Homo sapiens: one gene and its partner. The protein of the gene in region 1 purifies or fractionates together with the protein of each later gene. This does not show direct contact. Each region holds a gene or a part of one and is shown in the gene's direction. Other genes may lie near its edges. The genes, in order: VPS33B and FARP1.

The links.
Region 2: the proteins of VPS33B (region 1) and FARP1 fractionate together in Homo sapiens (co-fractionation; one large-scale study listed by BioGRID). This does not show direct contact.

Annotation. Positions count from the first base shown.
Region 1 is NC_000015.10:90,998,532-91,002,346, reverse strand, and holds the end of VPS33B (vacuolar protein sorting-associated protein 33B), read left to right. Parts: intron 1-164; coding exon 165-297; intron 298-884; coding exon 885-958; intron 959-1,755; coding exon 1,756-1,857; intron 1,858-2,371; coding exon 2,372-2,447; intron 2,448-2,553; coding exon 2,554-2,670; intron 2,671-3,292; coding exon 3,293-3,372; 3' UTR 3,373-3,674; downstream 3,675-3,815. UniProt on the Homo sapiens protein: May play a role in vesicle-mediated protein trafficking to lysosomal compartments and in membrane docking/fusion reactions of late endosomes/lysosomes.
Region 2 is NC_000013.11:98,145,969-98,149,783, forward strand, and holds part of FARP1 (FERM, ARHGEF and pleckstrin domain-containing protein 1), read left to right. Parts: intron 1-3,815. UniProt on the Homo sapiens protein: Functions as a guanine nucleotide exchange factor for RAC1. May play a role in semaphorin signaling.

The DNA of each region.
Region 1 (3,815 bases):
AGCCCTGTTTGGTTATTTCTGATGTGAAAATTTATCTCAACAAAGTGTGAGCTCCTTCACACTGCAGCAGAGGCTTCATAGTCCTTCTGCTCAACTCTGTAGTACCTGACAGTACTAGATGCTCTTTGGACACTCAGTAAATAGTCTAATTGCATCTTCTTCAGAGCTATGGCCCTGAGCACCTGCTAACCTTCTCCAATCTGCGAAGAGCTGGGCTCCTAACGGAGCAGGCCCCCGGGGACACCCTCACAGCCGTGGAGAGTAAAGTGAGCAAGCTGGTGACCGACAAGGCTGCAGGTAAGCAGGGAGCACAAGTGACCCCTGCTCCAGCTGTTGTCCTGACTTCTCTCAACACGCAGCATGCTGGGAGGGACAGAATGAATTGGAGAAGGTGGACTGATTCCTTCCTATTAATGTCATTACTATTATTACTACTACTTCTGCTAGTAAGAGCAGTTTCCACATAGTAAACACTTACCATGTGCTGAGCCCTTTAGTTTCTCATTTAATCTCACAAAGACTGTGAGATAAATTTTCTCATCCTCATTTTATGATGAAACTGAGGCTTAGAGAATTAAGTGATTTGTCCAAGGTCCCTTAGTTAGTAAGTTAGGTCGGTTTAACTCCCAAAGCACATACCAATAAACTCGGGTTACCCTGTGGATTGCATTTAGTAGAGAGCTGGTACCCCGTAGGAGGGGGAAGACTGTGGGTGGGGAGAAGGGTGGGGAGTATATCTTGATTAGTTCCAGGGAATTATAGTTGAACAGCTTCCGAGAGTTTTTGGATGTGATTGGTGCTGTCGTGTCCTGAATGGTGTTATCTGTGGCAGTGTCATGAATCCATAGACCTTAGGTGAAACCTGACACAGATTTCTTCCCCAGGAAAGATTACTGATGCCTTCAGTTCTCTGGCCAAGAGGAGCAATTTTCGTGCCATCAGCAAAAAGCTGAATTTGGTATGTGGAACAGGGATGGTTAGGGGAGACAGTGGGTTCATTCCATTGTGGAGTACTTTTCTTTTTTTTTTTTTTTTTTGAGATGGAATCTTGCTCTGTTGCCCAGGCTGGAGTGCAGTGGCACAATCTCAGCTCACTGCAACCTCTGCCTCCCAGGTTCAAGTGATTCTCCTGCCTCAGCCTCCCAAGGGATTACAGGCATGTGCCACCACGCCCAGCTAATTTTTGTATTTTTAGTAGAGACAAGGTTTCCCCATGTTGGCCAGGCTGGTCTTGAACTTCTGACCTCAGGTGATCCGCCCACCTCGGCCTCCCAAAGTGCTGGGATTACAGGCATGAGCCACTGCGCCCAGCCCATTGTGGAGTACTTTGAATCCACAAAAACCTTTTTGTCATTTCATGTGTATAAAGATTCTTTTGTTTGGTAGTCTTATAGCATGGTAGATTCATTCATTTAATCAACATGTAACAAGCACCTGCCAATGCCAGAGAATATTCTAAGTGCTGCTTCAGTGACAACCATATCCTGTGTCACTTAAGGGTAGGGAAAGGAGAAGCCATCCCTCCAGCCCCTTTACATTATTCAATAATGGCGCATGGGAACTCATTCCAGAGAACTGGCAGTTACTGAACAAAAACTGCCATCTTCCGTTATGGATTCTCTTTTCAGGGCTATTGCTGGTTCTCCCTTTAGTTGAAATAAGAATTGTTCCTTGGGCCATGCCACTTTATCTGACCCTTTAAAGGGTTAGGGAGCTGAGCTGTCACTTGCCTAATGAAGTCCCTTTGTCTTACAGATCCCACGTGTGGACGGCGAGTATGATCTGAAAGTGCCCCGAGACATGGCTTACGTCTTCGGTGGTGCTTATGTGCCCCTGAGCTGCCGAATCATTGAGCAGGTGAGAGCATGTAATTCTTGCTCCCATTCATATTTCATTCTCTCTGCTTTCTCTTGGTCCCTGGCGTGTCTCAATGTTTTTTTTTTTTTATTTGAGATGGAGTCTTGCTCTGTCACCCAGGCTGGAGTGCGGTGGCACGATCTTGGCTCACTGCAACCTCCACCTCCCAGATTCAAGTGATTCTCCTGCCTCAGCTTCCGAAGTAGCTGGGACTACAGGCATGTGCCACTGCACCCAGCTAATTTTTGTATTTTTAGTAGAGATGGGGTTTCATATAGACAGGGCCAACTATATGTTGACCAGGCTGGTCTCGAACTCCTGACCTCAGGTGATCCCCCCGCCTCAAACTCCTAAAGTGTTGGAATTACAGGCGTGAGCCACCACACCTGGCCCTGTCTCAACTTTTTGCTACTTGAGTAATGAGCAAGAAATGTGACAGTCTGGCTGCTGTGCCCTTCCTTTCCTAAGCCTGATACTGTCTGTAGCCTTAAAAACAGTGCTTACACCTTCCCAGGTGCTAGAGCGGCGAAGCTGGCAGGGCCTTGATGAGGTGGTACGGCTGCTCAACTGCAGTGACTTTGCATTCACAGGTATGTGGCATTAACAGTGGGGTAGGCTGGCAGTGAGAGGTGGGCTGGATGCACCACTCAGGACTAGCATGTCAGGGAAGGGCTGAATCTGGTCTGATCCTCACAGATATGACTAAGGAAGACAAGGCTTCCAGTGAGTCCCTGCGCCTCATCTTGGTGGTGTTCTTGGGTGGTTGTACATTCTCTGAGATCTCAGCCCTCCGGTTCCTGGGCAGAGAGAAAGGTAAGAGAGAGCAGAAAGGTGAGAATTGGCCTGCATTGTATCTGGGTAACAAAGTGTCAGCTGGGCACGGTGGTTCATACCTGTAATCTCAGCACTTTGGGAGGCGGAGGCGGGCAGATCACCTGAGGTCAGGAGTTAGAGCCTAGCCTGACCAACATGGTGAAACCCCATCTCTACGAAAAATACAAAAATTAGCCAGGCATGGTGGCCGGTGCCTGTAATGCTAACTACTCGGGAGGCTGAGGCAGGAGAATTGCTTGAACCCGGGAGGTGGAGGTTGCAGTGAGCTGAGATTGCACCATTGCACTCCAGCCTGGGCAACAATAGCAAAACTCCATCTCAAGAGAAAAAAAAAAAACACGCAAAGTGTCCTGCACAGGAATATTTTTCTCCTGGCCTCAGAATACAACTTGCCATAGCCTTAACTCTGGGCTGCCACAGCAGGGAGCCCAGTTATACCAGTCATAGAAAGCAGTGGTGCCCAAGAGCATGGCACTCACGTCTCTGTCTATAAACTGGTGCTGTGATCCCGTGGGGACTGTGGAACTGGAGAGGCTCTATGGGTTGCCGTTGGGGCCTAAGATCTGTGCTGTCTCTTCTGCTGCTGCATTTGACTCCTTAGGCTACAGGTTCATTTTCCTGACGACAGCAGTCACAAACAGCGCTCGCCTTATGGAGGCCATGAGTGAGGTGAAAGCCTGATGTTTTTCCCGGCCAGTGTTGACATCTTCCCTGAACACATTCCTCAGTGAGATGCAGGCATCTGGCACCCAGCTGCTATAACCAAGTGTCCACCAACTACCTGCTAAGAGCCGGGAGCATGGAACGTGTTGGGATTTAGAGAACATTATCTGAGAAAAGAGTTCACTTCCTGCTCCCAGGATATTTCTCTTTTCTGTTTATGAAGTACAACCCATGCTGCTAAGATGCGAGCAGGAAGAGGCATCCTTTGCTAAATCCTGTTTGAATGTCATTGTAAATAAAGCCTCTGCTCTCAGATGTAATACGTTGGTCGTTCTGGACACGCACTTCCATCTTTATTAGTGAAAGCCCATTGGAGCTTGCTACAGGGGCTTCCTGTGCTTCTTGGCCTGGACTTTGTAGTGGCTCCAGGCCTGGTCTGGTTCTTCCCTGTAAAAATCACT
Region 2 (3,815 bases), on another chromosome or scaffold:
TTAAACAGTGAAGCTTATACTCATTTAATTTATTGAACACCTAAGAGCTTAATTCATTTGGAAAATTGTATATATTTATGAGGAGGATGCTTGTGATAAACATCAGAAAAAAACAACTCTTTTCATCCTGGACGGGATTAGAGAATACTAGAGAAAGGATAAAAGGCTGGTTTCTGCAGGCAGAATATGCTTAGGAAAAATGGCATTGTGATTTTCCCAGAGGATAAGAGAAATTCTGTGGATTTGTAAGTACTGTACTTGCCTGATTTTTTTTTTTGAGATGGAGTTTTGCTCTTGTTTCCCAGGCTGGAGTGCAATGGCGCAATCTCGGCTCACTGAAACCTCTGCCTCCCAGGTTCAAGCGATTCTCCTGCCTCAGCCTCCCCAGTAGCTGGGATTACAGGCATTTGCCGCCATGCCCAACTAATTTTCTGTTTTTAGTAGAGACGGGGTTTCTCCATGTTGGTCAGGCTGGTCTTGAACTCCTGACCTCAGGTGATTTGCCCGCTTCGGCCTCTCAAAGTGCTGGGATTACAGGCGTGAGTCACAGAGCCTGGCCTTGCCTGATGTTTTGATAGCATGGTGGACTGGACATTTTAAAGAAGCCCTTTGTAACTGGCCTTGCTTATTGCAGATAACTGCTTAGTGTTTTTGAGAAATGCACTTTCCTCACCAGCTGAAGGTGCTACAGATAAGAGGGGCAGGTATAGTCCTGTAATGCAGGTGCTAAAGTCTTTCTACTTTGGAAGGACAGGCATTCCCTGTATTGGTTACCGTTTGCCTGGGAAGGGAGGCTGTGGGGTTTTAGGCTCTCGTGGCAGTCTCTCTCCTGTTGTTTGGTGCTTTTGATTGAAAGGAGCCTCTCCAAGCCTGGCTATTGAATGGGAAGCAGCGGATCAACTTCTTTTCTTGTCTTTTAGTGTCAGAGTTTATTCTGTGGTGGTACTGGGTCACAGTCCTTTCTCTCTGTTTCACCCATGGCAACTTAGGTAGGCTGTTACCTCCTTAACCACTTCCACATGGCCAGGAAGATCAGAGCCAAACGGTTTTCATTCAAATTACTTGAAATACTGATTTCTCCAGTCCTGTTCTGCCAAATGCAGCCTTTGTTTTCAATCAAGAAGCCCCCAGAAAACGTGTATTTAAAACTGGCAAAACTTTTTATAGGATGCCCTTGCCCTGGTTTGAATTAGTTAAAAATGTTTGGCCAAGTGGATACTTTGAGCAAAAGTGGATAATGGATACATTACTAAAATATCATGCTCGAAGCTTTTGATACTAATCCGGCGAGACTGAAACTGAGGCATGCTCAGTGCTGCCTGCAAACTGTTAACTCAGATTTTAAGTTTTCTTAGTTTAATGTGGGATGGAAATTATGAACTTCAAGACTTGCAATTAATGTGGGAATTCATCATTTACACTGAATGAATTTCATATGTAAAACTGTCATATTTGTTCACACATTAAAAAAAAGAAGAGCCTCAGGCCACACTAGACTGCCTTTAACTCTCAATTATGATAATAACCTCTGACCACAAGAGTAACTTCACTTTATGTGCAGACTTTTGACGAAATGCTTTGCATAAATTTATTATCAATTAGAAGACTTAAAAATCCAGTATTATGATGACTTTCAGTTTTTGTTCTTGTTCATTCAGGATCTAGTATAGTATCTGAATATAGCAAACCCTTGGTAAATTATTGTGTTCTGTTTTCTTTTTGAAAAAAACTCGAGGCTGGAGTGCAGTGGTGATCATGGCTCATTGCAGCCTTGACCTCTTGGGCTCAAGCAATCCTTTCATCTCAGTCTCCCGAGTAGCTGTGACTACAGACACATGCCATCACGCCCAGCTAATTTTTTCTTTAAAAAAATTTTTCTTAGAGAGTCTCACCGCTATGTTGCCCAGTCTGGTAAATCCTTGTTGAATGAATAATAAATCCAGTTTTTACCATCCCTTCAAATTAGTCTTTAGGGTTTTTAAAGGAAACTTGTTATTAGAATTGATAGATTGCAGTTCTGGCAGTTTGATATTTGATTTTGTTTTCATTTCATTCTAATTTAGCAATTGAATCCTTAAAGCTAAGTCAGATTGTAAAAAGACAGAGGTTCCTTTTCAAAAAAAAAGACAATAAGGTGCGGTGGCTCACGCCTGTAACCCCAGCACTTAGGGAGGCCAAGGCGGGCGAATCATCTGAGGTCAGGAGTTCAAGACCAGCCTGACCAACATGGAGAAACCCCGTCTCTACTAAAAATACAAAATTAGCCAGGCGTGGTGGCGCGTGACTGTAATCCCAGCTACTCGGGAGGCTGAGGCAGGAGAATCGCTGGAACCCGGGAGGCGGAGGTTGTGGTGAGCTGAGATTACGCCATTGTACTCCAGCCTGGGCAACAAAAGTGAAACTCCGTTTCAAGAAAACACAAGACAATAAAAGCATGAAGAAGAAAATAAAACAAACTTGAAATCCTGCCACCTGTTACTGACTCCTACCTTAGCATTTTGGGATCTGTTCTTTTATATAGCCTTCTCATTTCTTAACCTGCGCCAAATTTGACATTCTAATTGTTTTATATGGTACTTGTCTGTAAATTTAATGTGCTCACCATTCCTTTTTGTACTTTGAAGCTTGCTTCTGGGATACATTTTCCTTCTTCCTGAGACACATCTTCTAGAAATTCTGTTAGCATCTGTTGGTGGTAACTTCAGTTTCTGCATGTCTTAGATACCTTTGTTCTTGAATGGTAAGTTTATCTGGGTGTGCAATTCTGTATTGTTCCTGTATTAATCAGCTGTGTTCTGGTCCCATTGCTGTTGCTGTCTAATTATTTGTAACTAGTCTGCCTTTTCTCTCTGGCTACTTTTAAGATGCTTTGGTGTTCTGCAGTCTGGCTATGACATGTCTAGGTATTTCTTCTCTCTTTTACTTTTTTTTTTTTGAGTCAGGTTCTCACTCCCATTGCCCAGGCTGGAGTGCGGTGGCATGATCTCGGCTCACTGCAGCCTCAACTTCCTGGGCTCAAGTGATCCTCTCACGTCGGCCTCCCAAGTAGCTGGAACTACAGGCAAGCACCACCACACTTGGCTCATTTTTTGTATTTTTACTAGAGATGGGGTTTTGCCATGTTGCCCAGGCTAGTCTTGAACTGCTGGGCTCAAGTGATCCTCCTGCCTCGGCCTCCCAAAGTGCTGGGATTACTGGCATGAACTGCCATGCCTGGCTCTCCTTTAGTTTTATTCCTCTCTCTCTTCTTCCCTCTTCTCCTCTCCCTCTCTTCTGTTCCTCTTCCCTGCTCCCTTGCTACTGTCTTTCCCATCCTCTTTATTAGTTTATTTTCTGTTGCTCAGCAGTATTTCCGTGGCTGGATATGCTATGACTTGCGTATCCACTCCCCTTTGGCCATTCAAGTTGTTTTCAGTGTTGGCTATCATGAATACAGCTGCTGTGAACATTTGTGAACAAATCTTTGTGTAGAGATAGGTTTTTATTTTTCCTCCTGGGTCTTTAAGTGTGTGCCTAACTTTATAATAAGCTATTTGTAAGAAAGCGTTGGCACCATTTTATGTTACCATCAGTGATGTATGAGACTTCTAGTTACTCCAATCTTGATCAACACTTGAAACAGTCTTTCCTTTTAGCCATTCCAGTGGCTATGTAGTGATATCTCACTGTGGTTTTGTTTTTCCTGATAACTAATGAAACATTTTCATGTACTTATTGACCATTTATATATCTTCTTTTGTGAGTGTCTGTTAGATATTTACTTTTTTTTTTTTTTTTTTTTTTTTTTGAGACGGAGTCTTACTCTGTTGCCCAGG